Regions from separate parts of the Homo sapiens genome. Here regions 2, 3 and 4 are each linked to region 1. Evidence: fine-mapped expression QTL. A gene starts in region 1. Each other region holds a variant in brackets. All regions are shown on one strand. Distances are between the middles of the regions.

Region 1 (8,029 bases):
GCCTTGTGCCGATAAAGGCAGGGGTTTGGAGTCAAGCCTAGCCCTGCTGTGCCCCACCGCACACATCTGGTGCACCCACCCCACACATCTGCACCCCACTCCACACAACTTCAGGACAAGAGGGGCACTTGGTCTAATCCAGAGATGGCAAAGGCCAGGTGTTTGTGCTGAGGCCAACCCCTTCCCGCCCAGGGCACACCGGGCTGCTCCATCCTGCATCCTTTCCTGCAGAGCCCAGGCTCAGAGTCCTTCTCAACACAGAGCCCTAGGCAGCCATCACCAAGTGGAGCTGCATATGGGGGGAAACCAGCCTGCTTCCCCTGAAATCCAACTCCTCATGTCACACATGAGGATGCTGAAGCCCAGAGAGGGGTAGGCACTAGCCCAAGGTCACACAGGAAGGGGGCTAGAATGGGGATTCCTGAGACTTAGCTAGTCCCACTTGCTGGGTTTAGAAACCAAGGGTCTTCTCCAGAAGGTCTGGGACTGATTCTGGCGTTGAGTCCTGGGAAGAGGCCACTCAGAACAGGGAGGTTTTAGTGAAGCAAGGGGAGAAGGAGGCCTGGAGGCTCTCTTGGCTTCCTTCCCCAAATTGCCTGTGGTCCTCTTTGAGTACTGGGAGAGAGGGGGTGCTGCACCCCCAGGCCCTCCTCTTCTTTGGAAGGAGATGGGGACAAGAGCTGGTGTTTCTCGGTGCCCCCAGCCCACAGCATGGTATGGCCAGCTCAGCCCAAGATGTGGCCCCAGGGAAGGGAGGAGGACCGGTAGGAGGGCCAGATGAAGCAGGCAGTTGTAGAGCTGTGGCTAACACCAAATGCTGCTTCCTGTTCGTGATTTTAGGACATGAGTCATCAAGGGGCTGGCCCGGCACATTCAGGGCGCTGAGATAAGCAGGACTGAGGGACAAGAAAAGGTTACTTGCCCTGGCTGTGGGCCAGCCTTAAGCAGGGAAGGAGTAGGGTTCCCGCTGTCCAAGCAACCCTGTAAGATAGATTCCCACTGGGACCCTGAGGCCAGGTCAGAAGGAGTTGGCTTTGTGGCTGGCTCTGAAAGCTCACTCCAAAAAGAATATTGCATGGAGACCTCCCCATGGTGGAAAGAGCCCCTCCCAGCACAACCACAGCTCAGCCTTCCAAACTGCCCTCAGCCACACACAGCACCTGCTGCACCTCAACCCTCTGTACGGTTTCTCAGCAGGTGCCCCTCAGTCACTGAGGAGTCCATTAAAAAGCCAGATATTAGGCCCTCAACAGACATGGGCGTGGGGCCCAGGACTCTGCATGTTTCACAAGCCTTCCAGATGATTCTTATGCTGGTTGAAGCTGGAAAGCCACTCCTCCAAAAGATCCACTAGAATGCCCGGTACACAGTAGGTGTTCAATAACTGTCAGTGGACAGACCGGCTGTCCTCGCACACGTGGCCTGCCCGTGGCCCTGCCTTCTTCCACCCTCGCTTGCAGGAGTGCAGTCATCCACCTACTGGGGTGGGAGATGTCAGGGGACCTCTGAGGGCTGTAGACTGAGCTGGGAAGTGAGGAGAGGCTCCAGGGAGTGTCTGGCCAAGAGCTCAGATTCTGCACATGCAGCCCCTGAGTTGAGGACCTGAGGGCCACAGTTCCATCTCTGCTTGAAGACTGTGTTGTCAACAAGGAGCAAATGGGGACTTTTCTGCGCTGTGGGGCTGGGAGTCTACCAGATGCATGGCTTGGGAGTCTGGGTTGGGTATACAGGGCCTAGGAGTGATTGGGCTGGACTGGGTTCCTGAGCCTTGACCCGGACATCCATGTACCCATTCATTCATTCATTCATTCATTCTCTCAAGTCTTCATCCCTTCATCGCCTCCTGCGTACCCTTCATCCTGTATTTGGTCCTTATTCACTTCAACTTTATCAAGCCCCCCGTTAGGTATCTCCTGGGCCAGAACATACAGGAGATGCACAAGAAGGGACTCAATCAAGGGAAATAGAGGGAACCAAGAGCAAGTCCCCCTACCCTCGGGTATCACACAGTTCAGCAGTGTGAGAGCTCCATGCTGAGAAGAGCCCCTTGGCTATGGAGAGGCCACCAAACCAGGTTTGAACCCGCTGTACCCCGTATTAGCTGGATAAGCATACCATAAAGCTTGCCCCCCACCTGGTGCAAGATAAAGTGTGTAAGTCATCTTTCCATAACCGCTAGTATCACAATTACTAAGAGAGGCGAGGGCCGTGTAAGCAACTAATACCGGAGTAAGTGTTATGCTAATAGTCTGTAGACGTACCATGTTATCCTGCCCAGCTTGCTGGGGTGTGGTCAAGGGTGGTTTCACAGGAGAGCACGAGTGGAGCTGTGACTGGAAGGACAAGTAGGTGATCACCAAACAAACAAAGAGGAAAACACACCTCAGGCAGAGGAACCTGCATGGACAAAAGCATGGAGGTGGGAACTCAGGGTTGCTCCGAATGCCCAGGGAGTTGGCCTGTAGAGCTGGGGTTCGTGGTGGGGCTCTGCCTGGTGGGCCAGCTGGGCCAGGACATGAAGGCCTCCAGTGTCTTGTGGAGGAGGCTGAAATCAGTTCTAAAGGCCATGGAGAGCCATGGGCTAGGTTGCTTCTCAACCTTGGCGTTCTGGACGTTTTGGGCTGGATAATTCTCTGTGGATGAGGCTGTCCTGAGCGTTGTGGGATGTTTGGCAGAATCCTGGCCTCTACCTGTGAGATGCCAGCAGCACCTCTCCCTGCCCCCTGCAGCTGCGACCACCCAAAATGTCTCCAGACATTGCCAAATGTGCTGGGGAGGGAGAGGGGGTAAAATGACCTCTGGGTTGAGAAATCCTGGGCTAGGAGAGTGGCATGAGTGGCTAATGCTTTGCAGGGCTGGGCCTGACCACTCCACGGAAAGGCAGATTCGGGGACAGAGCCTGAAGGCCAGAGCCTCATCGGGAGGCCCAGAGCATCATGGGTGGGAGATAGAGCCAGGGCTGGGCTGTGGGGCAGAAGGAGAGAGTCCAGGCCCTCCACACTGCCTCTGCTGTCCCTGAGTTTTACCATATTCCCCAGTGGCAGGTACAATATGGTGAGTGTCAAGATCAATCCCCCCCCCACCCACACTGAAGAAAAAGTCCCGGACCACGTGTGCAGGTCATGTGGAGAGACAAACTGGTTCAGCCAGAACTGGCCATCGCCACCTCCAGCCTAAATAAGATGTGGGGTTGGAGAAGCCAAGAGAGAGGATTTTGGGGAAGGAGTCACCATTGGGCTGAGTGCCCCCTGCTGCCCTTTGGAGCGGAGAGGGCACTTCCTCTTACCTTGGGCCAAGCAGGAGGGGATACGAGGGAGCCATCTGGGGGCTTCATATCCCAGGAGTTTAAGGACCATAACACAGGTGGAAGATTCTTGTCTATTTTGTCCACTGCTGAGTCCCCAGCACTCCAGGGCTGGCACACAGTAGGTGCTTAATAAAGGAGCCTGTGGCTGGATGGACCTGAGCCAGCATTGCTGGAGTGAGCCAGGGTGCACGGAGAGTTAGCTGGGCTGCTATTGGTGCGCAGCAAAGGGCAGGCAACCATGGACCCCAGCGAGGAGGCCAGCCTGACCATCTCCATCCCAAAGTGCTTCCTAGTAGGTAAGGCGGCCTCAGCAGGAGAAGCCAGGAGGACACCATCCTGTAGGAGCTGAAGGGGAGGTGGTGAATTGTGGCCAGCAGGAGGTGCAGGCATTTCAGGTGCTGGGGAGCTGTGGCCAGTGGAGTCAGTAAGAAGGTCTCCAAGAAACCTGCACTAGAGCCCCAGAGAGAATGAGCTGGAAACTGTCCCCAAAGTCCCCAGTGCCAGATGGGTGACAACTTTGGCTGCCATGGAACACTGTGCCCTTTCCTTCCCAAACCCTCACCCCTGGGCCTGACCCTGGAGTCAAGAACTGCACTTGGCAGAGTTCAGAGAGAAGTCGCCTGCTCTCAAGCCTGGGTCGGCCTGGAGAAGGGGAGAAGCCCCATGTTGCATAGAGATTAAGCTTGAATTCGTTCCCAGGATGGGACCTAAGCCTGGGAGGATCCCCACCTTCAGGAGGTGATGGTGCCATTCACTGGGATAGGGAAACTGGCAGGAGGAGCCGGTTGTTGAGGGTTGGGGGTGCAGACAGTCTGTTGGTCCCATTGGTCTTGAGGTGTGTGGGGGACAACTAGAGAGAACTATTGTCCCCTGCTTCCACGAGGTGACATCTCCCTCCTGCCTTCAGCTCTATTTTAGGGATCAAGGAGTCCTTGGAGCTGCTCCTAGGCATTCTCATAAGGGCCAGAAGAGCTCTGCATGTCTGTCCAGCGGCTCTGCAGAGTTAAGGCTGTGGGTCATACCAGCCACACCCTCAGCGTGGTCCATGTCACAGAAACATGTGGAAACCAGGTGATTTCCCAGCCTCCTGGTCAGGAGGTGGGGTTTTCCATCCCCAGGGAGTCACTTCCCAGTTTCTCACTCAGCACTCAGCACCTAGAAGCACCATCCTTGCAGGCTCCACTGTGGGGCTGGTGGCCGGGAGCAAGGGTCTCTGTACCTCTTCAGGCAGCCTGCAGTGAGGAAACAGGGAACAGAATAGCCTCCTGCCACCCAGCCCACCCCAACCCTTAGAAATGCCCTATGTGCTGGGGGCTAGGACCCCCGTAATCCAGGGCTGGAGGAATGTGCTCTGGCCCCGCAGGGCTGGCCCTGTATTAGGGCTGGCACTCAAAGTGGGGATGGGGGGACAGATTGCAGCTGGAATGGGTGCTCGGTCATGATGTAAATCCTGGGGAAGCCAGCTCTCCTGGGCCTGGTCTCAGCAGCCCCTCAGGGCCCTGCAGCTTCCCTGGTGACATTCTCTCCCAGCCTCTGTTCATCTGCCCCCTGCCTGGGCAGGAGACTTGAGCAGGGAAGTGCAGAGTCTTCTCCCTGTGAGAAGGCTGGATGCGTGTTTAAGGATAAATGAACACGCGAAGAGTAGTAACAACAGCCAAGATTTATAAATGCCTATTGTTATATATGTAGATACTTACTTAAGTATATATAAAGTACAGACTGCATTATGTATATTACATATCTTTAAATTTTTAGAATAGTCCTATGAGGTCAGTTCAGAGATCCAGACCCAGGTGGTCTGGCTCTAGAGTCTAAACAGGCCGAGTGCAGTGGCTCACACCTATAATCCCAGCACCTTGGGAGGCCAGAGGCGGGAAGATCACTTGAGGGTGGGAAGAACACGTGAGCTCAGGAGTTCGAGACCAGCCTGGACAACATGGCGAAACCCCATCTCTATAAAGAAATCAGCCTAGCATGGTGGCCCGAGCCTGTAGTCCCAGCTACTCGGGAGGCTGAGGTGGGAGGATCGCTTGAGCGCAGGAGTTGGAGGCTGCAGTGAGCTATGGGTGAAAGAGTGAGACCTTGTCTCAAAAAAAATTAAAAAATAAGAATTAAATATATTTAAAATAGAGTCTAAATAAGTGAATGATCTAGAATTCTCTTGGTTCCCCTAAAGCAGCTGTCAGCTTTGGGGGATGTTTTTCCAAATTAGTGCCTCACCCTCACGGGACAGGGAAGCCTGTGGGAGCTGGGAGGGCAGGTGGAGGCCGGGCAGGTGGAGGCCGGGCAGGTGGAGATGGTGATTCGAAGAGGAGGGGACGATAGGAGGAGGTTGAGGGGTCACCCGAGTGCTGGGAGTGACGCTGGAGGTATCGGCCCAGCGATGCTGGAGTGGTCGGGTCGGAGGCCCAGCAGCGTCTGGGGAGGGGCGTGGGGGAGGCGTGTCCAAGGCCGGCTGGCCCCGCCCCGCCCCGCCGCCTGGCCTCTGGCCCGCTGGGGCGCGGGCTTTCGCTTTCAGTCGAGGGCTAGCGAGCGCAGCGGAGCCTGGAGAGAAGGCGCTGGGCTGCGAGGGCGCGAGGGCGCGAGGGCAGGGGGCAACCGGACCCCGCCCGCACCCATGGCGCCCGTCGCCGTCTGGGCCGCGCTGGCCGTCGGACTGGAGCTCTGGGCTGCGGCGCACGCCTTGCCCGCCCAGGTGGGTGACTCGCGCGGCCCACGGGGGACAGCCGCCCCGCATGTCCACCCGGCTGGTGCGCAGCCTTCGGGTGCCCGGGCCGCGCTCTCCCGGGGCGCTGTCACGGGCTGGGAGGCTGGGAGTCCCAGTCGCCGCCCCCCATCCGCATCAGACACGCGCGCCTCTGGGGACCCGCTGGGGACTCCGGGCCCGGCACACGTGCGCTCGGGGCACAACTCTGGCCCCCGAAGCCCCTCTTACCCGCGTCGTGACAGGGGCGCACCCTGGTTCCTCCGCGAGCGCAGGCCGGGGCATTTGGGGCTGAGCAGCGGGTCCTGGGCAGACCCCCGCTAGACCCGGGACCCCTCTTCCCTCACCCCGGCGACTGCCGCGACAGCCCTTCCCTCCCACGCGGTGGAGAAGGGGCTGTGCCGGGGCGCTGCCCCACTGCCCACGCCGGGCACCCTCTTCAAAAGACTTCCTTTTCCTCTGGGCGACGGTTTTCCGATTTCTTAGAAATACCAGGGTCCTGTGTCTGAAGAGCAGGACCAGGTGTGTGTCAGGTCCACTGAGGGCACAGCTGGAGGGCGAGCTGCCTGTCTGCTTCCTCCGATGCGTCCGGGGGCTACTGCAGAGTCTGTTTTCTGCGGCCTCTGGGGACAGGGCAAGCGAGGGAGGTCTGGGCTGGTAATCGAGCAAGGCAAATGAAGTCTCCGGGGGCCGCAGGAAAATGGAGACAGCAGAAACCCTAGGGCTCCTATTCAATATGAACGTCACTCCCACAGTAGCAACGGGCGTACAAGGGACTGTGCACCCTTTGCCTGTTTTTGACTGTCTCCTGGTCTGGTAACATAGGATAACCCCATTTTTGTTTTACTGTCTCCATGGTTTGGTAAGATAAGATAAACCATTTTTTAGAGAAGGAAAACTGAGGCTCAGAGAACTTGTATTTCATGGAAGGGTCTGGGGGGAACTCTTCCTCCAAAGGGGGCCTCTCCTGCCTTCGGCCCCTGTGCCCTGAGGCTGCGGGGAAGGTGGGCGTTCATCCTTCCTCAGAGCCGCCCCTGATGGACACATGGCCCATCTGCCCCCATCTGACATCTTGACCGAGGAGGAAGGTGGGAGGTGGCACTGGCTTCTGTGGTGACATAAGGTGACTTGTTGATCTGAGGCCAGAGAGTCCAGTTCTTGTGGGTGGAAGATGGGGGCTGTCAGACTAGAATTGACTCACCGACAGTGGGTGTCAGGAGTGGGTCCTGGAGAACTGCCCCAGAGTAAGTCCTGGGTGGCCTTTGGGTCAGGAGAGTCCCCACTCTAGGGCCGAGTGTGAATGGGGACGACCGTGGTCCCCAGCTTGACTTTGGGGTCATGCCATATACTCTGGCCTCAGAGGGGGTCTTCCTGCCGCTGAGCTTGGGCCTGCCTGGGTGAACTCTGGGGTCATGTGAGCCCCTGGATGGGAGAGGGGTGTCAGGCACAGGGCTCAGCAGGACACCAGGCTGCAGTCCTGGAGTAGCTGGAGGAGGTTCCCTCCCACTTCCTTCCCTTCCTGACCAGCTCCTGCGGCAGCTCATATTCCCTCCTCCCTCATCCCTGCTCCCCACGACCCCACCCGGACTATTGCCGCAGCCTTGTAGCTGGTCTCCCGGCCCTGCCCCCTCTCCCGCTGATCCTTGGCAGAGAGACCCTTCTCAAGCATGAGGCACCTCTCTGTTTGCCTGGGGAGCCTCCTGTGGCTCCCAATGGTTGAGGCAGAAACTCCCCTGGAGATCCCAGGCCAGAGTAAGGTACCTGAACTCTTCCTCGCGCCTCCCTGCACATGTGCTCCCCCGCCTCTGTAGAACTGATGATGGTCATCGTGTGTGTCATTGTGCAAAAAGCATTGTCCGTGCCATCCCCTCTCCAAGGGACACTTCTTACCCCTATCCTTCAAGGCCTTCTGCAAATGCCATTCTCTCCAGGAAAGCCTTTCCGCATTCTCAGTTGGATTTGATCTTCTCTTCGAACTCCCAGGCCCTTTTGTTCCCTTTGAGGACAGATTGCATTCT
Region 2 (8,029 bases), 45 kb after region 1:
ACTCCTGACCTCAGGCGATCCACCTGCCTTGGCCTCCCAAAGTGCTGGGATTACAGGCGTGAGCCACCCTGCCTGGTCCAGAAGTCATCTTTTGAAGGGAGACAAGGCAGGAATGATGGATGGGTGTGTGATATGAGAGAAAGATGGGTCCGAGGCTCTGGGCCCAAGCAGCTGGGTGGATGGCAGCAATGGGAACTGTGATGAGCAGGAGAGGTTTTGGATGCGAGATGGGAGTAGAATCAAGAGTTAAGTTGGAGGCTGAGCACGGTGGCTCACACCTGTAATCTCAGCGCTTTGCGAGGCTGAGGTAGGCAGATTCTTTGAGGTCAGGTGTTCGAGACCAACCCAGGCAACCTGGCGAAACCCTGTCTCTACAAAAAATTAGCAGGGTGCGGTGGCCTGTAGTCCCAGCTATTCAGGAGGCTGATGTGGGAGGATCACTTGAGGCCGGGAGGCAGAGGTCACAGTGAGTTGAGGGAGTGACACAGCACTCTTTTGAGACCCTGTCTCAAAAAAAAAAAAAAAAAAGACAGAAGAGACAGGGTCTCACTATGTTGCCCAGTCTGGTCTTGAACTCCTGGGCTCAAGCGATCCTACAAACTTGGCCTCCCAAGTAGACATCTGTTTTATATAATTGGCTCCTCCCATCTCTGGGGTGATTGGGGCTGGGTAGGTAGTGATGCTATTCTTATTCGGCAGAGGGGAAAATGAGGCACATGCAGGTTAAGTGACTTGCTCAAGGTCACACAGCAGAGCTGGGCTAGAATCTTGGTCTCGGCTCCTGGCCCAGTGCTCTTTCCCATGTGTCTGAATCTGCATCTTGGGCAGGGGTCCCTGGGCCCCACTCCTGGACCCCCGGACTGACCCCCACCCCATCTTGTGCTTAGCAGATTCTTCCCCTGGTGGCCATGGGACCCAGGTCAATGTCACCTGCATCGTGAACGTCTGTAGCAGCTCTGACCACAGCTCACAGTGCTCCTCCCAAGCCAGCTCCACAATGGGAGACACAGATTCCAGCCCCTCGGAGTCCCCGAAGGACGAGCAGGTCCCCTTCTCCAAGGAGGAATGTGCCTTTCGGTCACAGCTGGAGACGCCAGAGACCCTGCTGGGGAGCACCGAAGAGAAGCCCCTGCCCCTTGGAGTGCCTGATGCTGGGATGAAGCCCAGTTAACCAGGCCGGTGTGGGCTGTGTCGTAGCCAAGGTGGGCTGAGCCCTGGCAGGATGACCCTGCGAAGGGGCCCTGGTCCTTCCAGGCCCCCACCACTAGGACTCTGAGGCTCTTTCTGGGCCAAGTTCCTCTAGTGCCCTCCACAGCCGCAGCCTCCCTCTGACCTGCAGGCCAAGAGCAGAGGCAGCGAGTTGTGGAAAGCCTCTGCTGCCATGGCGTGTCCCTCTCGGAAGGCTGGCTGGGCATGGACGTTCGGGGCATGCTGGGGCAAGTCCCTGACTCTCTGTGACCTGCCCCGCCCAGCTGCACCTGCCAGCCTGGCTTCTGGAGCCCTTGGGTTTTTTGTTTGTTTGTTTGTTTGTTTGTTTGTTTCTCCCCCTGGGCTCTGCCCCAGCTCTGGCTTCCAGAAAACCCCAGCATCCTTTTCTGCAGAGGGGCTTTCTGGAGAGGAGGGATGCTGCCTGAGTCACCCATGAAGACAGGACAGTGCTTCAGCCTGAGGCTGAGACTGCGGGATGGTCCTGGGGCTCTGTGCAGGGAGGAGGTGGCAGCCCTGTAGGGAACGGGGTCCTTCAAGTTAGCTCAGGAGGCTTGGAAAGCATCACCTCAGGCCAGGTGCAGTGGCTCACGCCTATGATCCCAGCACTTTGGGAGGCTGAGGCGGGTGGATCACCTGAGGTTAGGAGTTCGAGACCAGCCTGGCCAACATGGTAAAACCCCATCTCTACTAAAAATACAGAAATTAGCCGGGCGTGGTGGCGGGCACCTATAGTCCCAGCTACTCAGAAGCCTGAGGCTGGGAAATCGTTTGAACCCGGGAAGCGGAGGTTGCAGGGAGCCGAGATCACGCCACTGCACTCCAGCCTGGGCGACAGAGCGAGAGTCTGTCTCAAAAGAAAAAAAAAAGCACCGCCTCCAAATGC[C/T]AACTTGTCCTTTTGTACCATGGTGTGAAAGTCAGATGCCCAGAGGGCCCAGGCAGGCCACCATATTCAGTGCTGTGGCCTGGGCAAGATAACGCACTTCTAACTAGAAATCTGCCAATTTTTTAAAAAAGTAAGTACCACTCAGGCCAACAAGCCAACGACAAAGCCAAACTCTGCCAGCCACATCCAACCCCCCACCTGCCATTTGCACCCTCCGCCTTCACTCCGGTGTGCCTGCAGCCCCGCGCCTCCTTCCTTGCTGTCCTAGGCCACACCATCTCCTTTCAGGGAATTTCAGGAACTAGAGATGACTGAGTCCTCGTAGCCATCTCTCTACTCCTACCTCAGCCTAGACCCTCCTCCTCCCCCAGAGGGGTGGGTTCCTCTTCCCCACTCCCCACCTTCAATTCCTGGGCCCCAAACGGGCTGCCCTGCCACTTTGGTACATGGCCAGTGTGATCCCAAGTGCCAGTCTTGTGTCTGCGTCTGTGTTGCGTGTCGTGGGTGTGTGTAGCCAAGGTCGGTAAGTTGAATGGCCTGCCTTGAAGCCACTGAAGCTGGGATTCCTCCCCATTAGAGTCAGCCTTCCCCCTCCCAGGGCCAGGGCCCTGCAGAGGGGAAACCAGTGTAGCCTTGCCCGGATTCTGGGAGGAAGCAGGTTGAGGGGCTCCTGGAAAGGCTCAGTCTCAGGAGCATGGGGATAAAGGAGAAGGCATGAAATTGTCTAGCAGAGCAGGGGCAGGGTGATAAATTGTTGATAAATTCCACTGGACTTGAGCTTGGCAGCTGAACTATTGGAGGGTGGGAGAGCCCAGCCATTACCATGGAGACAAGAAGGGTTTTCCACCCTGGAATCAAGATGTCAGACTGGCTGGCTGCAGTGACGTGCACCTGTACTCAGGAGGCTGAGGGGAGGATCACTGGAGCCCAGGAGTTTGAGGCTGCAGCGAGCTATGATCGCGCCACTACACTCCAGCCTGAGCAACAGAGTGAGACCCTGTCTCTTAAAGAAAAAAAAAGTCAGACTGCTGGGACTGGCCAGGTTTCTGCCCACATTGGACCCACATGAGGACATGATGGAGCGCACCTGCCCCCTGGTGGACAGTCCTGGGAGAACCTCAGGCTTCCTTGGCATCACAGGGCAGAGCCGGGAAGCGATGAATTTGGAGACTCTGTGGGGCCTTGGTTCCCTTGTGTGTGTGTGTTGATCCCAAGACAATGAAAGTTTGCACTGTATGCTGGACGGCATTCCTGCTTATCAATAAACCTGTTTGTTTTACACGTCGACCCCTGGCTCTGCCTGGGGTCTGGGCTTGGGTTTGTCCATGCTCCTACTTGTCTGCCACCCCTGTGTAAGGGGAGATGGCGTCACGGTCCCTGGAGTCTGGCTGGCCCCTGTTGTGACTGGACCACAGAGGGACCCCTGTTACAGCCGCCCCCTCAAGCCTGTGAACCATAAGAGAACTTCCTGCTCGGGACCACACAGCTGGCTGGGTTCCAAGTGTGCCCTGGTCTCATGCCTTCATCCTCCAGGTCTCCTGGGCCTGCTCTCAGGACCGGGATGGGGTCTCTGCAGATCCCTAGCAGCCTAGGCAGCCAGGCTCTGCCCTCCTGGGGACCCCACTCGGGGAGAGTGGTTGCCCCTGGGATACTCAGACCAGTACAGGGTTTTGGGGGCCCAGAGGACATCCCTGGGCCCAGGTAGGAGGTTAGAACAGGGTTCTGGAGATGACCTCTGACCTCCTCCTGAGGGATGAGCAGCAGTTTTCCAGAACAAAGGATTGCAGGGAACTGTCAGGCAAAAGGAGTTCTGAGTTTAAAGGCCTTAGCCTGGCCAGCATGGTGAAACCCCATCTCTACCAAAAATACAAAAAATTAGCTGGGCATGACGGTATGCACCTATAATCCCAGCTAGTCAGGAGGCCGAGGCACGAGAATTGCTTGAATCAAGGCAACAGAGGTTGCAGTGAGCTGAGATCGGGCCACTGCACTCCAGCCTGGGTGACAGAGTAAGAGTCTGTCTCCAAATAAAATAAATAAATAAAATCAATTAATTAGAAGAAAGCCTTGGAGGGGAGAGAGACCTTGGCCTGTGTATTGGTTCCACTGACCCCCTGGGTCACCATCGTCACTCCAGCTCCTGTGACTCCCTCAGTGGGACCATTTTCATTCTTGGTGATTATAGGATCTGTGATTGATGGAACGCCCCGCCTCCTGGCTTCTCGCCCTCCTCTCCTCCATGGTCCTGTCCTCCAGCCTGTCTCAGTCACTCAACCCTTGACCAAGGCTCCCCACACTTATTCCATAAAGAGCCAGGGAGCAAATTTATTTTAATTTTTTGAGACAAGGTCTCACTCTGTTACCCAAGCTGAAATGTGATCGTGGCTCACTGCAGCCCTGACCTCCAGTCGCAGCCTCTTGAGCAGCTAGGACTACAGGCATGGACCACTATGCCGAGCTAAATTTTAAATTTTTTTATTTTTATTTTTTGGGTTTCCCTGTGTTGCCCAGGCTGGTCTCGAACTCCTGGGCTCAAGTGATCCACCGGCCTGGGCCTCCTGAACTGCTGGGATTACAGGTGTGAGCCATTGCGCCTGACCAGAATCAATATTTTACACTTGGCAGGCCTTACAGTTTCTGCAACAACCACTCACCTGTGCTGTTGAAGTGTGAAAACAGCTGTGCACAGGACATGAAAGAATGGGCAGGAGGCGGATGTGGCCTTCGGGGTGTGCCCATGCCAGTGCCTTAGAGCCTGGCATTACTGATAACTGCACGCTAATCTCAATTTCAAGCATCCCACTTCCCCCCACCCCTACTTCCTCCTGTCTTTCTCCCTCAGTGGCACCTGCAGCTGTTGGTTACGTTTTCTCCCTTGTACGCACCCACGGCACTTTCTCCTGGTTTGTTGTTCTCTCTCTGGTTGAACCCAGCTCTCTGCCTGTGCCACACCTGCACGTCTGCACCTGGCTGGGGCAGGATGATGGCCTTCCACCATGCTGGCTGGTCGCGTTTTCATTTCATGATCATTAGACTTGGCTGGGCACAGTGGCTTATGCCTGTAATCCCAGCACTTTGGGAGGCTGAGGTGGGCAGACTGCTTGAGCTCAGGAGTTCAAGACCAGCCTGGGGCAACATGGTGAAACCTCATCTCCACAGAAAAATACAGAAACTAGCTGGGTGCGGTGGCACGTACCTGGAATCCCAGCTACCCATGAGGTTGAAGTGGGAGGATTGCTTGAGCCCAGGAGGCGGAGGTTGTTGTGAGCTGAGATCTTGCCACTGCACTCCAGCCTGGGGGATGGAAAAAAAGAATAAATTCTATGGGGGTCCTTGGTGCTGCCCAGCAGTGACAACAGGTCCCCTCCCCGATATATTAGTTCCTGTTGTTGCTATAACAAACCACACAAACTCAGTGGCTTAAAACAATACAATTTCATTCTCCTACAGCTCTGGGAGCCAGAAGTATAAAAGCAAGGTGTTGCCAGGCCTGCTAGGCTCAAATGGGGAATTTGTTCTTGGAGGCTTTAGGGGAGAATCTGATTCCTTGCCTTCAGCTTCCAGCGGTACCTGCATTCCTTGACTTATGGCCCCTTCGTCCATCTTCAGAGATAGCAACGGAATCTCTTCAGAAGTCAGATCTCCCTTTGCCTCCCAAGTGTAGGGACACCTGTAATTACAACGGACCACCCAGAAAATCCAGGACACTCTCCTCGTCTTAGCATCTTGGCCAGGTTTCAGGAATTCAGACATCAATGTCTTTGCAGGGGCAAAGACAACCATTGGTTATGCAGCCTACCAGCTCCTATTCACTCAGTCTCCCACTCTTTCTATTTATCTTTTAATTTTATTTATTTATTTATTTATTTTTTGAGATGGAGTCTCGCTCTGTCACCCAGGCTGGAGTGCAGTGGTGCGATCTCGGCTCACTGCAAGCTCTGCCTCCCGGGTTCAAGCGATTCTCCTGCCTCAGCCTCCCGAGTAGCTGGGATTATAGGTGACACCACCACGCCCAGCTAATTTTTGTATTTTTGGTAGAGAAGGGGTTTCGCCATGTTGGCCAGGCTGGTCTTAAACTCCTGACAGGTGATGCACCCACCTCAGCCTCCCAGAGTGTTGGGATTACAGGTGTGAGCCACTGCGCCTGGCCTATTTTATCTTTTAAATAAAAGGATTAATTGAGGTTTTTGTTTGAGACTGAGTACCACTCTGTGACCCAGGCTGGAGGGCAGTAGCGCAATCACAGCTCAATGCAGCCTGAAACTCCTGGGCTCAAGTGATCCTCCCACCTTGGCTTCCCAAAGTGCTGGGATTATAGGGATGAGCCACCACACCTTACCCCACTCTTCTAGATGGACTATTTCATGTGTTCTCCTTTATCCCCAAGCCTCTGTCCTCACCCCACCCTTACCTTCAGTTGGTTACCTTGCTGTCTATTTCACCGAGAAAATAAAACACAAGAGAATGCTTCATGCTTGCCCCACCACATCTGCCCTCTCACCCTGCATCTGTGCCCACAACCCTGGCCTTTGCCGTGACTGGGTCTGAGGACAGCGCCTCCCCTGCACGGGATCTTAGCATCTCTCCTGGCTCAAGGACATTGCTTCAGTGAGTCTCCTGTCTCTTTCCTTCAGCATCAATTTCTCTGGCTCCTGGATCTTTCCTGTTTGCATATAGACACCCTGAGGTTCCTCCCATTTGTGAAACAACCTCACACCCATTAGGACAACTACTATCAAAAACCCAGAAATTAGTAAGTGTTGGTGAAAATGTGGAGAGATGGAAAACCTTGTGCGTCGCTGAGGAGAGTGCACAGTGGTCCAACTGCTATGGGATACAGTGTGACAGCGACTCAAAACATGGAACATAGAATTACCATCTGATCCAGCAACTCCGCTTCTGGGTGTGTACCCTAAAGAACTGAAAACAGAGTCTCAAACAGATATTTGTACAGCAGTGCTCCCTGTTCATAATAGCCAAAAGGTGGAAACAACCTAGGTGTCCAAAAGGTGGAATGGATAAACAAAATGTGATCTACAGGCTGGGTGCAGTGGCTCACACCTGTAATCCCAGCACTTTGCAGGGCTGAGGCAGGTGGATCACCTGAGGTCAGGAGTTCGAGACCAACCTGGCCAACATGGTGAAACCCCATCTCTACTAAAAATACAAAAATGAGCCTGGCGTGGTGACACACGCCTGTAGTCCCAGCTACTCAGGAGGCTGAGACAGGAGAATCACTTGAACCCAGGAGGCGGAGGTTGCAGTGAGCCGAGGTCGCGCCACTGCACTCCAGCCTGGGTGACAGAGTGAGACTTCATCTCAAAAAAAAAAAAAAAAAAAAAGTGGTGTACAATGGAATATTCAACCTTAAAAAGGAAGGAAATTCTGACACGTGCTGCAACACGGATGCCTTGAGGACAAGGATCCCTTGTCCCTTATACTAAGTGAAATAAGCCAGTCACAAAAGGACAAATTCTGTATGTTTCCCGTACATGAGGTACCTGGAGTAGTAGGATTCATAGAGATGGAAAGTAGGGTGTTGGTTGCCAGAAGCTGGGAGAAGAGGGAATGGGGAGTCAGTGTTTAATGGGTGCAGAGTTTCAGTTTTTTGAAATGAAGAGTTCTAGGCCAGGCATGATGGCTCACGCCTGTAATCCCAGAACTTTGGGAAGCCGAGGTGGGTGGATCGCTTGAGTTCAGAAGTTCGAGACCATCCTGGACAACATAGCAAGACTCCGTCTCTATGAAAATGAGCTGGGCATGGTGGCATGCGCCTGTGGTCCCAGCTACTCAGGAGGCTAAGGCGGGAAGATTGTGCGAGCCCAGGAAGTCGAGGCTGCAGGGAGCCATGACCTGTGCCACTGTACTCCAGCCTGGGTGACAGGGCGAGACCCTAAAAAAAAAAAAAAAAAAAAAAGTTCTGCAGATGGATGGTGG
Region 3 (5,000 bases), 30 kb after region 1:
CCCAACACACGCAGCCAACTCCAGAACCCAGCACTGCTCCAAGCACCTCCTTCCTGCTCCCAATGGGCCCCAGCCCCCCAGCTGAAGGGAGCACTGGCGACTTCGCTCTTCCAGTTGGTAAGTCGCAAGAAGTCTCATTCATTCACTCCTTCTGTCTGCCTGTCTTTCTGTCTCTCTTTCTTCCTCTCCCATGGTTTTACTGAGAGCCCACGGGGGGCTGGACCCTGTGCCCTGTCCTGGGATACAGGTGGCAGTGAGACTGCTTTCTCCCCACACCTGGTGCTATCATTCAAAATCCCTAAGTGCGTGGGCTGGATGCAGTGGCTCAAGCCTGTAATCCCAGTGCTTTGGGAGGCCAAGGAGGCTGGAGGATTGCTTGAGGCTAAGAGTTTGAGGTCAGTCTGGGTAACACAGCGAGACTCCATCTCTATAAAAAAATTAAAAAATTATTTGGGTGGGATGGTGCCTATTGTCCCAGCTACTCAGGAGGCTGAGGTGGGAGGATCACATGAGCCCAGGAATTTGAGGCTGCATTGAGCTCTGATCGTGCCACTGCACTCCAGCCTGGGCAATGAGTGAGGTCCTATCTCAAAAACAAAACAAAACCAAACAAAACCCCTGGATAGGGGAGAGGTGGGGTCAGCAATTCACCTGAATATGCAGATGGTCTCCTTGCTGCTGTTTCTGATGAGCCCATTAGGCTAAGAAGACAGCGGGCTGGGCCAGGTCACCTCCAGGGGCTTCCATTCTGGGGTAGAACTGCATCAGGCCAGAGGTCTCAAACTAGTGGCCCTTAGGCTGAATGAGGCACACAGACATGATTGCTTTGTAATTGGATTTGAGAATCTCCGGCCTAGACTCGCCCCTCATTTGCAATGACCCGAAGCACCTTGGGTCCCTGGCTTGCCTGGCTGGCCCCTGGTACATTTGAGTTTGTTTTCTGTAGCTGTCTGAGCTTCTCTTTTCTTTCTAGGACTGATTGTGGGTGTGACAGCCTTGGGTCTACTAATAATAGGAGTGGTGAACTGTGTCATCATGACCCAGGTGAAAAGTAAGAGTCCATCCTTCCTTCCTTCATCCACTTGTTCAGGAAGCTTTTGTGGGGTGCCTCCTGTGAGTCCAGCACTGGGCACAGCCTTAGGGGTCAGACAGAGCTGGATATGGGGGTCCTTGTTCTGTAGGAGCTTAAGGCCTGGGGTGAAGGTACCTCTGCTAACTTAATTACTAAAAGGCAAGAGGTGATCAGGGTTTTCTAAAGGGTAGGAGGAGTTCAGGATTCCTATCCAGGAAGCCTGGGGGATTCGGGCTTCCTGCAGCAGGTGGTCTCTGAGCTGGGTAAGATCTTGATGGGTGGAGTCTGTGCAGGGAAGGACACGCATCCTCAGTGGAGGCGCGGATGGTATAGATGGGGGACTGGAGAATGGTTGGGATGGTGGCAGGTGGAGTTGGGTGGGGGCTTCTGTGGACCTTGTCTGGTAGGCGATTGGTCCCCACAGGGCTGGGCCTCTCTGCTGGTTCTATGGGGCCCCATACTGCCCTCCTACTTAGGACAGATGTGCCTGAGGAAGTCAATCTCTTACTTGTCCCCTCTCCTCTTTATAGAGAAGCCCTTGTGCCTGCAGAGAGAAGCCAAGGTGGTGAGTGTCTCCACTGCCCTCTCCCCCTCTTCCCCTGGTCTCCTTCCCGGCGTGCTGGGCTGTCACAGAGGAAGCAGTGAATTCTGTCATTGGTCTGTCCAGTGTCAGGAGGTGTGCAGAGCCCTGGGAGGTGGAGGAAAGGCCGGGGAGTCAGGCAGCCCTCCATGGGCTAAGAGAGGCTGTGAGTGTGAAATGCTCCGGCAGAGAGCAGATGCCTTCGTGGCGTTCGTGGCAGGCACGTGGTCGTGGACCCACAGCGCAACCTTGGGCAGATGTGAAATTGCTCTATGGCTACTTCCTTACCATGAGATGGGGGTTGTGTCTGCTCGATCCAGCCTGCAGGGTGGTGCCATTCGGTCAGCTGACAATGATGTTTCTCCTTGCCTCCATTGTGTTTACAGAGCACTTTCTCAGAGAGCAGTGGTTTTCAAACTGAATTCTGGGATAGCCCAGTGTCCCACAGAGGGCCCTTGGGCGTGGGGGAAGTGGTCATCTCTCAGGTTTGAGGTAGAGGCTGTGGGGCTGGGCCCTGGGTCCTCCCAAAGCAACTCACCTTTGATCTGTTTTATAAAGTAGGGCCTGCGAAGGCTTTTTGTTAGAGACAGACCAACAGTGTGTCATATCATAGTATTTCATTCATTCTCCATCAGGAAGGCATTTGGCTGCAAGTAACCCCAAACCTAC[A/C]GGTGACTTTAGAAAAAATGGCTTTATTTTTCTTGCATTGTAAGAAGTCAAGGGGTTGGTGTCTGCTGGAATGGCCTCCACTATCCCCTTGCATGGTGCCAGCAGGACCCCAGGCTCTGTCATCTTTAGTGTGTTGACTTTTGTTCTCTTGTTTGTGGCCTCATGTCATAAGATGGTAATCATCACTTCATATGTCACCTCTAAGTTTGAGGTGGGAAGAAGGGGCAGGTGGCCAGGTCAGCCATGGTGCCCTTATCAGTAAATCGGATGCCTTCCCAGAAGCCCTGGGTAGACTTCTTTCATCTCACTGACCAGACAGTGTCACATGACCACCCCTAGCTGCGAGGGAAGCTGGGAAAGAGGGTGTTTTGCTTTTCCAGCCTCTATGGAGGAGGAGGACAAGGGAGGGGGGTTGGAAGTGGGTATGGGGTGAGCCAGAACATACGTCTGTCACAGCCTTGCACCTGGTAGGCAGGGCAGGTTTTTTACCCAATTTGACAGATGAGAAAACAGAGTCTGATGAGTTTTCTCGACCTCAGGGGCAGGTAGAGAAAGAACTTCTCAACCTCATGGATATTTGAGACAACATCTTACTTAAGGGAGGCCAAGGTGGGAGGATTGCTTGAGTCTAGGAGTTCAAGACCAGCCTGGGAAACACAGTGAGACCCTATCCCTAAACAAAATTAAATAAAATAAATATTTTTAAAAAGGATCTTGGCTGGGCACGGTGGCTCACTCCTGTAATCCCAGCACTTTGGAAGGCCGAGGTAGATGGATCACTTGAGGTCAGGAGTTCAAGACTAGTCTGGCCATCATGGTAAAACCCCATCTCTACTAAAAACAGAAAAATTAGCCAGGCGTGGTGGCACGTGCCTGTAGTCTCAGCTACTCGGGAGGCTGAGGCAGGAGAGTCGCTTGAACCCGGGCAGTGGAGGTTGCAATGAGCTGAGATCACACCACTGCTCTCCAGCCTGGGCAATAGAGCAAGACTCCATCTCAAAAGAAAAAATAAAATAAAATAAATAAATAAAATATCTTACTTAGTTGTGGGGGCTGTCCCGTGCTATTCAGCAGCATCTTTGGTCTTTATTTACTTACATGCCAGCCTCATTCCCACTCCAGTGGTGACAATCAAAAATTCTCCAGACATCACCAAGTGTCCCCTGGAGGGCAAAATCACCCCTAGTGGAGAACCACTGCTCGAGGGAACAGCTCAGCCCTGGGCAGCCCAATACCCGAAGCTTACACCAGGTGTTTGGAATCAGATAGATTGATTTCATCCCCTGATTTTGGTGACAAGAAAAGAGATGCAGGGAGGAAAACTGAGTTGCTCAAGGTCGCACCGCAGTGTGTCTCTGGACTCCCATCTCAGTGCTCTTTGCCCTGCCCTACAGTATTTCAGTGGGGAGGAAATTTTCTCATTCCCCGGCGAGCGAGTTTCACTGCTCCCTTTCTCCAGCTTCAATTCAGTGACACTGACGGTTGCCGCCTGGTGGCGTGCGTAGAGCAGGTGTCTCCCCCAAGCTCTTCCGCAGCAGCCCAGCTGTCACCTTCCCTTTCCCCACCAAGCGTTTCCCAATCCTCTGTGCACTGAAGATGTCCTGGGTGTGGCCTAGCAGCCTCTGCTTCCCTTTTCCATTTTTTTTTTCTTTCTTTCTTTTTTTTTTTTTGAGACAGCTATGTCGCCCAGGCTGCAGTGCAGTGGCGCCCTCTTGGCTCACTGCAGCCTCCGCCTCCCGGGTTCGAGTGGTCATCCCACCTCAGCCTCCCAAGTAGATGGGACTATGGGCATGCGCCACCATGCCTGGCTAATTTTTATATTTTTAGTAGAGACGGGGTTTTGCCATGTTGGCCAGGCTGGTCTCAAACCCCTGACCTCAAGTGATCTGCCCACCTCGGTCTCCCAAAGTACTGGGATGAGAGGCATAAGCCACCACGCCTGGCCCCTTTCCTTTCACTGTTGCTCTCAGTGTTCACTGAATGTGAGTGACTCAAGTATCTGTTGAGTGCCCCAGTGGTGTGTCTAGTGCAGAAAAAAACCCCCAAACCCTGATTTGTGGTGTTTGCTAATTTCTGTGGTATAAACACTCACACTGTAGCCAGTTTCCAACTCCCAAGACCTTCCTGAATATGGAGTTGGGAGGAAATCTGCACAGGCCTGAGCTTATCCCAGCACAGCCCTGGCTGAGCCCTGCCAGGCTCTTTGTGACTGAGTCCCCACGCATCCCTGTGGGGCAGGGAGCATCATCACCCCCATTTTACAGAGGAGGAAACTGAGACTCTGGGAGGTTCCATTTTTCCTGTAGGATTAGATCATTAGGTGAGTGGCATAGCCCAGGTTTGAATCAGGTTTATGCCTGTGTCCCACGCTACTCCTCAACCAGCAGCTACTCCTGATAAGAGGCCAGTGGAGAGTCCTCTTGAGCTGGGCTGCTGGGCTTAGAGTGTGGACTCAGCACCCACCTGCTCCTCCTGCCACAGAAAGAACGTCCAGGGCATGGGAGACAGTGGCGTTCCTTTGTTTAGAAAACACCAACATGTGGCCGGGCGCCATGGCTCACGCCTGTAATCCCAGCACTTTGGGAGGCCGAGGGGGGCGGATCACGAGGTCAGGAGATCGAGACCATCCTGGCTAACACAGTGAAACCCCATCTCTACTAAAAATAAAAAAAATTAGCC
Region 4 (8,029 bases), 21 kb before region 1:
GGCTTCTTCAGAATTCCTAAGAAGTCCTAACTGGAACTTCTGAGTCCACACTGAGTACAGTGCCTGGAATCCCAGGGGTGGGGTTCAGAGGGTGTTTGATGGGGAGGAGAAGGAAGTACCAGGCTCCCAGGCAGCTGGCTCAGGTGTGGGCTGCCCTCCCCTGGCATGGCCTGCAGGCCTTGCTGGTGAGTGGATCGGGGGCCACCTCCGCCATGGTGGAAAGGGAAGGCCTTGGAGGTTCTCTTGGGCACCCAAGACACAGGCAACCCCCTTGTCCTCCTAATGCCAGCCCAGGGTAGCGTTCCCCCTTCCCATCCAGTTCCCAAGAGGGGTCACACTGGGGTCTGTACATCGTCCCTCTTCCCCTGGGAACCAGGCAAGGGAAGAACCCCTTTCCCCCCAACTTCCTCACCTGCCCTCCCCACATAGCCAAGATGAATTCCCTGGACTCTGGAGCTCTGGGGAGGGGGCAGGAAATCCATGCAGCCCTTGGAAGCCACCCCCACAGCCTGGGGAGTAGGCAGCCTGTGATGGGGGCAGAGCCAGAGCGGGGCAGACCCCTCATGGCCGGCTCTGAAGTTTCCAGACCCCTCTTTCACTTCCGAGCTCAGTGGGAGCTGCTTCCTCACCCAGAGCAGCCAATTCCACCGCTTTGAATCCAGTTAATTCCAGATTTCCTGGGGACTCCTGCCCATTTCCCTGAGGAATGTGAGGGGACCAGCCTGTCCCCAGCTGTGGCTCCTTCTCCCTAATCCAGCACCCCCACCCTCACTTCCCTCCCACCTGACCCCACCCGCCTCTCATCTTCTCTGCCCATCCCCCTCTGGGCCTTCTCTCCCCTCCTGGGGTCTCCTCTCTCACCACCCCCGGCCCCCATCTTTTGCCCAGCCCTCTATAGGGCTCCTAGGGCTGGGAGCCCACAAGCCTGATGGAGGTGTGGGGAGTGCTGAGGCCCTGCTCTGTTTTGGGGTCTGTGGGGGCGCCCAGCCCATAGCCTGTCCCGCACTCTGGGCCTTCTCCTCTTGCTGCCGTTTGGCGCACTTCTCTCTTTCCTGGGGGTGTTCAAAACCAGAATAGAAGAACCAGCGTCATGCAATAGGGTTGAGGGTGTGGGGGACTCGAGAACCTTTTTGGGGTTCCTGAATCCGAGGGGTATAACTGCATTACCCAGAAAGGCAGGGGTCCCTGCACCCCCACCCCACCCCAGCTCTCAAGTTCCCTCTTGAGCTTCCCCATTCTGGCCTCCAGAGTCCAGCGCAGAACAGCTGGGAGCCAGCCCACCCTGAGCCAGACACCATCAGCTGGGCGGAGGCCAGGCTTCCCCACTCCCCAGCTCCTCGGGCCACTGAACCTGAGCCCCCATGTCCCCTCTATCAGAAGGCCACACCAGAAGCCCCCACATCAGACTGTGGCGAGGACCGGCCCTCCGTCCAAGCTCCCACCATGTGCTCACAGCACAGCCATGCACGCTGCAGGCAGGAGACCGGCTGTGAGCAGTAAGCCCCGAAATTCACGGCCTGAGCCAGGCTGTCTCAATCATGGGCTGCCGAGACCTATTGAGGGGGCCGGGTTTTCTGCAGGATGTGACAGGCTGGCTGAGTTTGCCCGGACCGAGGGGACTCCCAGGACACGGGACTTGCAGTAGTAGAACCAGGAATGTTCCCGGGCAAGCTGGACAAGTTGGTCACCCCGGGTTTTGGCTGCAGGCACACAGATAGGAGCAGAAAGGGCCACCAGGCGGAGTGGGTGGTTTTTTTTTGGGGGATTTCTCCTAACTACGTGGCGACCTTGGGCAGGTCATTTAACCTCTCCAGGCTTCAGATTCTTACCTGTAAATGGGAATCTTGATGGGGTCCGCCTTGCAGGAGGGCTGGGGACCCAGGAGTGGGGGTGTGGAAACTGCTCAGCTCTGCTGTTTCTGCTCGTGCTCTGGTTACCCACGGCTTTGCCTGTTTTTGTCCACAGTTTGCTTTCTGTCCCACCCTGTCCTCTTCTTCCCTACCCATCCGCAGAGATGTGCTGAGAAAATCCTAAGTACAAGTGGGCTGGTTCTTAACTCCTCAAGGCCCAGCTCCTAGCTGTTCTATTTCCTCTGAGCCCCCAGGATGCCTGTAAGGTACATCAGAGAGGCTGTGCCATCAGCCTGAAGCCACCCGGCAGGTGTACCAGCACTGGGCCTCGGCCCTTCTCTGCCTCTTTGCTCCCATCCTGGCTGGTGCTCTGGCCTCCCTCGCTCACCCATCCTTTTGCCTTGCAGAGAAAATCTACATCATGAAGGCTGACACCGTGATCGTGGGGACCGTGAAGGCTGAGCTGCCGGAGGGCCGGGGCCTGGCGGGGCCAGCAGAGCCCGAGTTGGAGGAGGAGCTGGAGGCGGACCATACCCCCCACTACCCCGAGCAGGAGACAGAACCGCCTCTGGGCAGCTGCAGCGATGTCATGCTCTCAGTGGAAGAGGAAGGGAAAGAAGACCCCTTGCCCACAGCTGCCTCTGGAAAGTGAGGCCTGGGCTGGGCTGGGGCTAGGAGGGCAGCAGGGTGGCCTCTGGGAGGCCAGGATGGCACTGTTGGCACCGAGGTTGGGGGCAGAGGCCCATCTGGCCTGAACTGAGGCTCCAGCATCTAGTGGTGGACCGGCCGGTCACTGCAGGGGTCTGGTGGTCTCTGCTTGCATCCCCAACTTAGCTGTCCCCTGACCCAGAGCCTAGGGGATCCGGGGCTTGTACAGAAGAGACAGTCCAAGGGGACTGGATCCCAGCAGTGATGTTGGTTGAGGCAGCAAACAGATGGCAGGATGGGCACTGCCGAGAACAGCATTGGTCCCAGAGCCCTGGGCATCAGACCTTAACCACCAGGCCCACAGCCCAGCGAGGGAGAGGTCGTGAGGCCAGCTCCCGGGGCCCCTGTAACCCTACTCTCCTCTCTCCCTGGACCTCAGAGGTGACACCCATTGGGCCCTTCCGGCATGCCCCCAGTTACTGTAAATGTGGCCCCCAGTGGGCATGGAGCCAGTGCCTGTGGTTGTTTCTCCAGAGTCAAAAGGGAAGTCGAGGGATGGGGCGTCGTCAGCTGGCACTGTCTCTGCTGCAGCGGCCACACTGTACTCTGCACTGGTGTGAGGGCCCCTGCCTGGACTGTGGGACCCTCCTGGTGCTGCCCACCTTCCCTGTCCTGTAGCCCCCTCGGTGGGCCCAGGGCCTAGGGCCCAGGATCAAGTCACTCATCTCAGAATGTCCCCACCAATCCCCGCCACAGCAGGCGCCTCGGGTCCCAGATGTCTGCAGCCCTCAGCAGCTGCAGACCGCCCCTCACCAACCCAGAGAACCTGCTTTACTTTGCCCAGGGACTTCCTCCCCATGTGAACATGGGGAACTTCGGGCCCTGCCTGGAGTCCTTGACCGCTCTCTGTGGGCCCCACCCACTCTGTCCTGGGAAATGAAGAAGCATCTTCCTTAGGTCTGCCCTGCTTGCAAATCCACTAGCACCGACCCCACCACCTGGTTCCGGCTCTGCACGCTTTGGGGTGTGGATGTCGAGAGGCACCACGGCCTCACCCAGGCATCTGCTTTACTCTGGACCATAGGAAACAAGACCGTTTGGAGGTTTCATCAGGATTTTGGGTTTTTCACATTTCACGCTAAGGAGTAGTGGCCCTGACTTCCGGTCGGCTGGCCAGCTGACTCCCTAGGGCCTTCAGACGTGTATGCAAATGAGTGATGGATAAGGATGAGTCTTGGAGTTGCGGGCAGCCTGGAGACTCGTGGACTTACCGCCTGGAGGCAGGCC[C/T]GGGAAGGCTGCTGTTTACTCATCGGGCAGCCACGTGCTCTCTGGAGGAAGTGATAGTTTCTGAAACCGCTCAGATGTTTTGGGGAAAGTTGGAGAAGCCGTGGCCTTGCGAGAGGTGGTTACACCAGAACCTGGACATTGGCCAGAAGAAGCTTAAGTGGGCAGACACTGTTTGCCCAGTGTTTGTGCAAGGATGGAGTGGGTGTCTCTGCATCACCCACAGCCGCAGCTGTAAGGCACGCTGGAAGGCACACGCCTGCCAGGCAGGGCAGTCTGGCGCCCATGATGGGAGGGATTGACATGTTTCAACAAAATAATGCACTTCCTTACCTAGTGGCCCTTCACACAACTTTTGAATCTCTAAAAATCCATAAAATCCTTAAAGAACTGTAAGGCTGAGGACATGATCATCGAAATTGAGAGTATGTTATTAATAGAACCCCTGAGCAGAAGTGGCTTTGGGAGTCTCCCAGCAGGGCAGGAATTCCCACTGAACCCCCAGGCACTAAGGTGGCCAGTCTCTGGTAGATTGGATACTTCTGGGGCCGGGAGCCCACTTCCTGCTGGGGCAGTCCTTCTTGTTGCTGGAAGATTTTCCTTATCACTCGAGGCAAATTCTTTCTCCATGTAATTGCCGCTCCCTGGTCCAAAGGCTGCCCTTTGAGGACACTCAAAGCCACTGTCGGCCAGTTGCGGTGCCTCACCCCTGTAATCCCAGCACACTGGGAGGCCGAGGCGAGTGGATCACCTGAGGTCAGGAGTTCAAGACTAGCCTGGCCAACATGGTAAAACCCCGTCTCTGCTAAAAATATAAAAATTAGTCGGGTGTGGTGGCGGGCACCTGTAATCCCAGCTACTCAGGAGGCTGAGGCAGGAGAATCGCTTGAACCTGGGAGGTGGAGGTTGCAGCAGTGAGCCGAGATCGTGCCACTGCACTCCAGCCTGGGTGACAAGAATGAGACTCCGTCTCAAAAAAAAAAAAAAAAAAATGCCACTGTTGTCACAAGGCTCCCTTTAGGTATTCGAAGAAAGGTTTCTGGGCCTCCCCATGGCCTTCCTCCCTCTGGGCTGGGCCGGGCAGCCCCATAGCTTTGGAGAAGGGATTCTCCAAGGAACAGCGTGAGTGCCCAAGCCCTGGGAGGCAGGGGGAGGACCACAGGTATCTGGGATCCCTGGGAGGCAGGGTGAGGACCACAGGTATCTGGGAGTGTTGGGCTTCAGTGTCTGAGCTGGGAGGAGCCCAGCCTGCCTCCCTGGGCACAGCTTTGTGGCACTTTAGGGCCAGCCTCCACCCCAGGCAGCCAGCCTGAGGCCTCCTCTGACTGTCTCCTGTGCGAGGTGGAGAACACCCACAGCCACAGACAGACCCTGTCCACCCCATCCCCAAGACTCCAGCCCACACCCACACATCAGCCCAGCCATTGAACCAGCCATGCACTCAGTCCAGGAGCCAGGGTGGATTTCCCCATCCTGCCCAGCGATGAGCGGACCCCTTCTATTCTCTGGCTGTGCTCACGTCCAGGTTGGCAGATGGACAGAGCTCCCTGCTACTCAAGGTAGCAATTCTCAGGCTGTGACGACACCCCCACACACCTCTTCCTAAACATTTGCGATCAGAGAGGGACAGCAAGTGGTAAGTATCAGATGGAAGCTGTTGCCTTCAAAGAAAAGCCATTGTTTCCCAAGGCACTTTTGTAGGTGGTAAAAACCATTCTACAGTTCACAGAATCTCCACGGCTCGGGTCAGTCCCTAAAACGGAACGAGGGGACCTCCCTAGAGCGTCTCTCGCTCCATCACGACCTCACCCTCCAACAGTGAGGTGTAAAAGACCCAAGGCTGGGTCTTGGTCATCTTTGTCCCATGGTCACTGGGCACTGATTGGTTGGGCTAAGTAGAAATGAAAACCTGTGTGGGGATGAGAGGCGGCTCTCCAGCCACAGTTCCTCGGGTGCCTTCTCTCTTCCCCCCACTTCCTCGATCCTCTGCAGTGGGGGGGCAAGTGTGGGGTGGGGGTTGCTTGGGCCAGAATATGTGGGGACATCAGATTCACAGCCACGGCCCAAGAGAAAAGCTTAGTCAAGGCGAGACTGTTCAGCTTCAAGGGGGGCTCCTTGGGCTGAAGGAGAAGCTGCTGAGGACACCTCAGGCCCCTGCACCCTCCACCAGGCCCCTCTGCCAGGCACCTCCTCCTAAGCCAGCACCCCATGCTGGCCAAACACCCTGGAACCCTTGCCCCTGGCTGACCCAGGGGAGCAGGTGTTCAATGTTGGGGCCATGGGTGTGAGCCAGGCACAGGGCAGAGAGGCTTGCCTGCCATTCTCTGCAGCTCAGACACAACAGCAGCGTGCGGATGGTGATGGCGCTGCGGGGTCACACACAGGCTCGAATCCCAGCTCTGCCATTTATCAGTTGCATGAGCTTGGCTATGTTCCATGATCTCTTTCAGACTCAGTTTTCTTGTCTGTGAAATGGGGGTGTCAGTCTCTACCTGACGGGGTTGTGGGGCTTCCCTGACATGCCACTCGGTGTGTGGCTTGTGCTGAGTGGCAGGTTCTGTCCTTATTCCAGCCTGGTGGCCGCTTGTCAAGAGCGAGCCCTTCCTATGTCTGCAGAATTCAGCCCATCAAGGTTAATCAGAGCTTTCAGGCCAGCCTGGGAACCTAGCCACCCTTGGGGCCAACTTGCTGTGGGAAGCCCCGCAGTGGGCAGGCCTCTTCTTGTTCTGTGGGCTACCCCAAGAACCCTTCAGATCACAGTCATAGGACTGGCTCATTATTCGACGTCTGTAACTCTGGGCATGTCGGCGAAGTGCTGCGGGTCCCTCCGGAGGGACATCTCACTCGTGGTTCTAGCACATTCCAGATTGCACCACATTACTGTTCGAGGGCTTTCCTCAATTAAAGGGTCTAGCTGCTGAGGACTAGTGGGGCACAGACTTGCTCTCGTGGGTCCTGTGTCTGGTGGACGGGACAGACGGTGGCGTCATCAAATCAGTACACAAGGTCATTCCAGAGTCAGATCACGCTGTGAACCACAAGGAGTCTGAGCCAGGTACTGTGGCAGAGTGGGAGGGGAGGGCCACCACTAGCTAGGTGGTCAGGGCAAGCCTCTTTGAGAAGGTGCCCTTTGAACTTGGCCTGAGTGATGTCACAAGCCAGCGAGGTCTGGAAGGCAGGGAGCTGAAGTGGGCACACTCCTGCCTCGAGTTTCAGGAAGAACACAGTGGTGGAAGAGGCACGGTGGGCGAGGGAAAAAAGGAGGTGAGGGGGGAAGGCCTGGGGAGGAGGGCCTGGTGGGCCATTGTGATTAGGCACCTAGATTTTATCATAAAAGTACTGGTCTATGTTTCTTTCTGTTTTCTTCCTAGTAGAACAATAAACATCCTGGTATTATTTCAGCAATCAGTGAGAAAGGCCAAACCAGGGGCGGCAAAGGTTGTTTTAACCTATTTTGGAGGGAAGTTGGGGAAACAGGCAGCAGCTGCTGGCAGCCAGGAAGCAGTTAGATGGGTTTTCTCAGAAAGAACTAAGACAGCATTCCTGGTGATGATTGTAGCTATGGGTAGGGTTAGGAGTCTGCCGGTCTAGCTTCCCCCTTTCTCTGGGTATCTTCCAGAGAGTAAAAACCAAACTGAAAAACCCTGGGAAGCCTGGAGGCCTTTGTTTGTGTTTTGGTGTGGTGATTGTTTTCCCGGTCATGAGGCAGAGGGATCATTTCAGTATCACAGGGTCAGCGGTGGCCTGTGCTTTTTACCCTTTAGCCCTCATGGAGGCAGTGGCCATTTCATGACGGTGGCATGGAGCTGTGGCTTCCGGCTCGACAAGCTCCCAGCTGCTTGGTCCCAAGCAAAGCCCTTATGTGCGTTCAATGTGGGTTTTCTGGTCTGCAAAATGGACCTAATGGGGCCAGATGCGGTGGCTCACGCCTGCAATCCCAGCACTTTGGGAGGCCGAGGTGAGTGGGTCACTTGAGGTCAGGAGTTCGAGACCAGCCCGGGCAACATGGCAAAACCCCGTCTCGACTAAAAATACAAAAAGTAGCCAGGCATGGTGGCATATGCCTGTGATCCCAGCTACTTGGGAGGCTAAGGTGGGAGAATTGCTTGAACCTGGGAGGCGGAGGTTGCAGTGAGCCGAGATCGTGCCACTGCACTCCAGCCTGGGTGACAGAACGAGACTCTGTCTTCAAAAAAAAAAAGAAAAGGAACTATAAGGCTGAGAGGGACTGTGGAAGTCCAGTCTGG

Evidence for each region.
Region 2: its variant is fine-mapped to the expression of TNFRSF1B in whole blood (TOPMed, PIP above 0.99).
Region 3: its variant is fine-mapped to the expression of TNFRSF1B in whole blood (INTERVAL, PIP 0.94).
Region 4: its variant is fine-mapped to the expression of TNFRSF1B in whole blood (TOPMed, PIP above 0.99).

What each region holds. Positions count from the first base shown.
Region 1 is chr1:12,161,168-12,169,196 of GRCh38, forward strand. It overlaps TNFRSF1B (TNF receptor superfamily member 1B), which reads left to right and starts at 5,824. Exons shown (of 10, transcript NM_001066.3): 1 at 5,824-6,002. The coding sequence starts at 5,925. It overlaps MIR7846 (microRNA 7846), which reads left to right and starts at 5,776; the gene lies at 5,776-5,871. RefSeq lists enhancers at 1-166, 167-676, 677-1,186, 695-834, 6,250-6,891 and 3 more and silencers at 5,660-5,969, 5,980-6,209.
Region 2 is chr1:12,205,850-12,213,878 of GRCh38, forward strand. TNFRSF1B (TNF receptor superfamily member 1B) reads left to right here. Exons shown (of 10, transcript NM_001066.3): 10 at 891-3,371. The coding sequence ends at 1,171. Among named protein-coding and RNA genes, the nearest start is that of MIR4632, 18 kb to the left of the region's middle. RefSeq lists an enhancer at 1,141-1,641 and a silencer at 4,630-4,709. The variant C/T (reference allele first, on the strand shown) is at 2,093.
Region 3 is chr1:12,192,982-12,197,981 of GRCh38, forward strand. It overlaps TNFRSF1B (TNF receptor superfamily member 1B), which reads left to right. Exons shown (of 10, transcript NM_001066.3): 6 at 1-117; 7 at 974-1,051; 8 at 1,603-1,637. Among named protein-coding and RNA genes, the nearest start is that of MIR4632, 3.8 kb to the left of the region's middle. The variant A/C (reference allele first, on the strand shown) is at 2,322.
Region 4 is chr1:12,140,030-12,148,058 of GRCh38, forward strand. It overlaps TNFRSF8 (TNF receptor superfamily member 8), which reads left to right. Exons shown (of 15, transcript NM_001243.5): 15 at 2,258-4,178. The coding sequence ends at 2,502. Among named protein-coding and RNA genes, the nearest start is that of MIR7846, 23 kb to the right of the region's middle. RefSeq lists enhancers at 5,170-5,259, 5,320-5,379, 6,460-6,539. The variant C/T (reference allele first, on the strand shown) is at 3,786.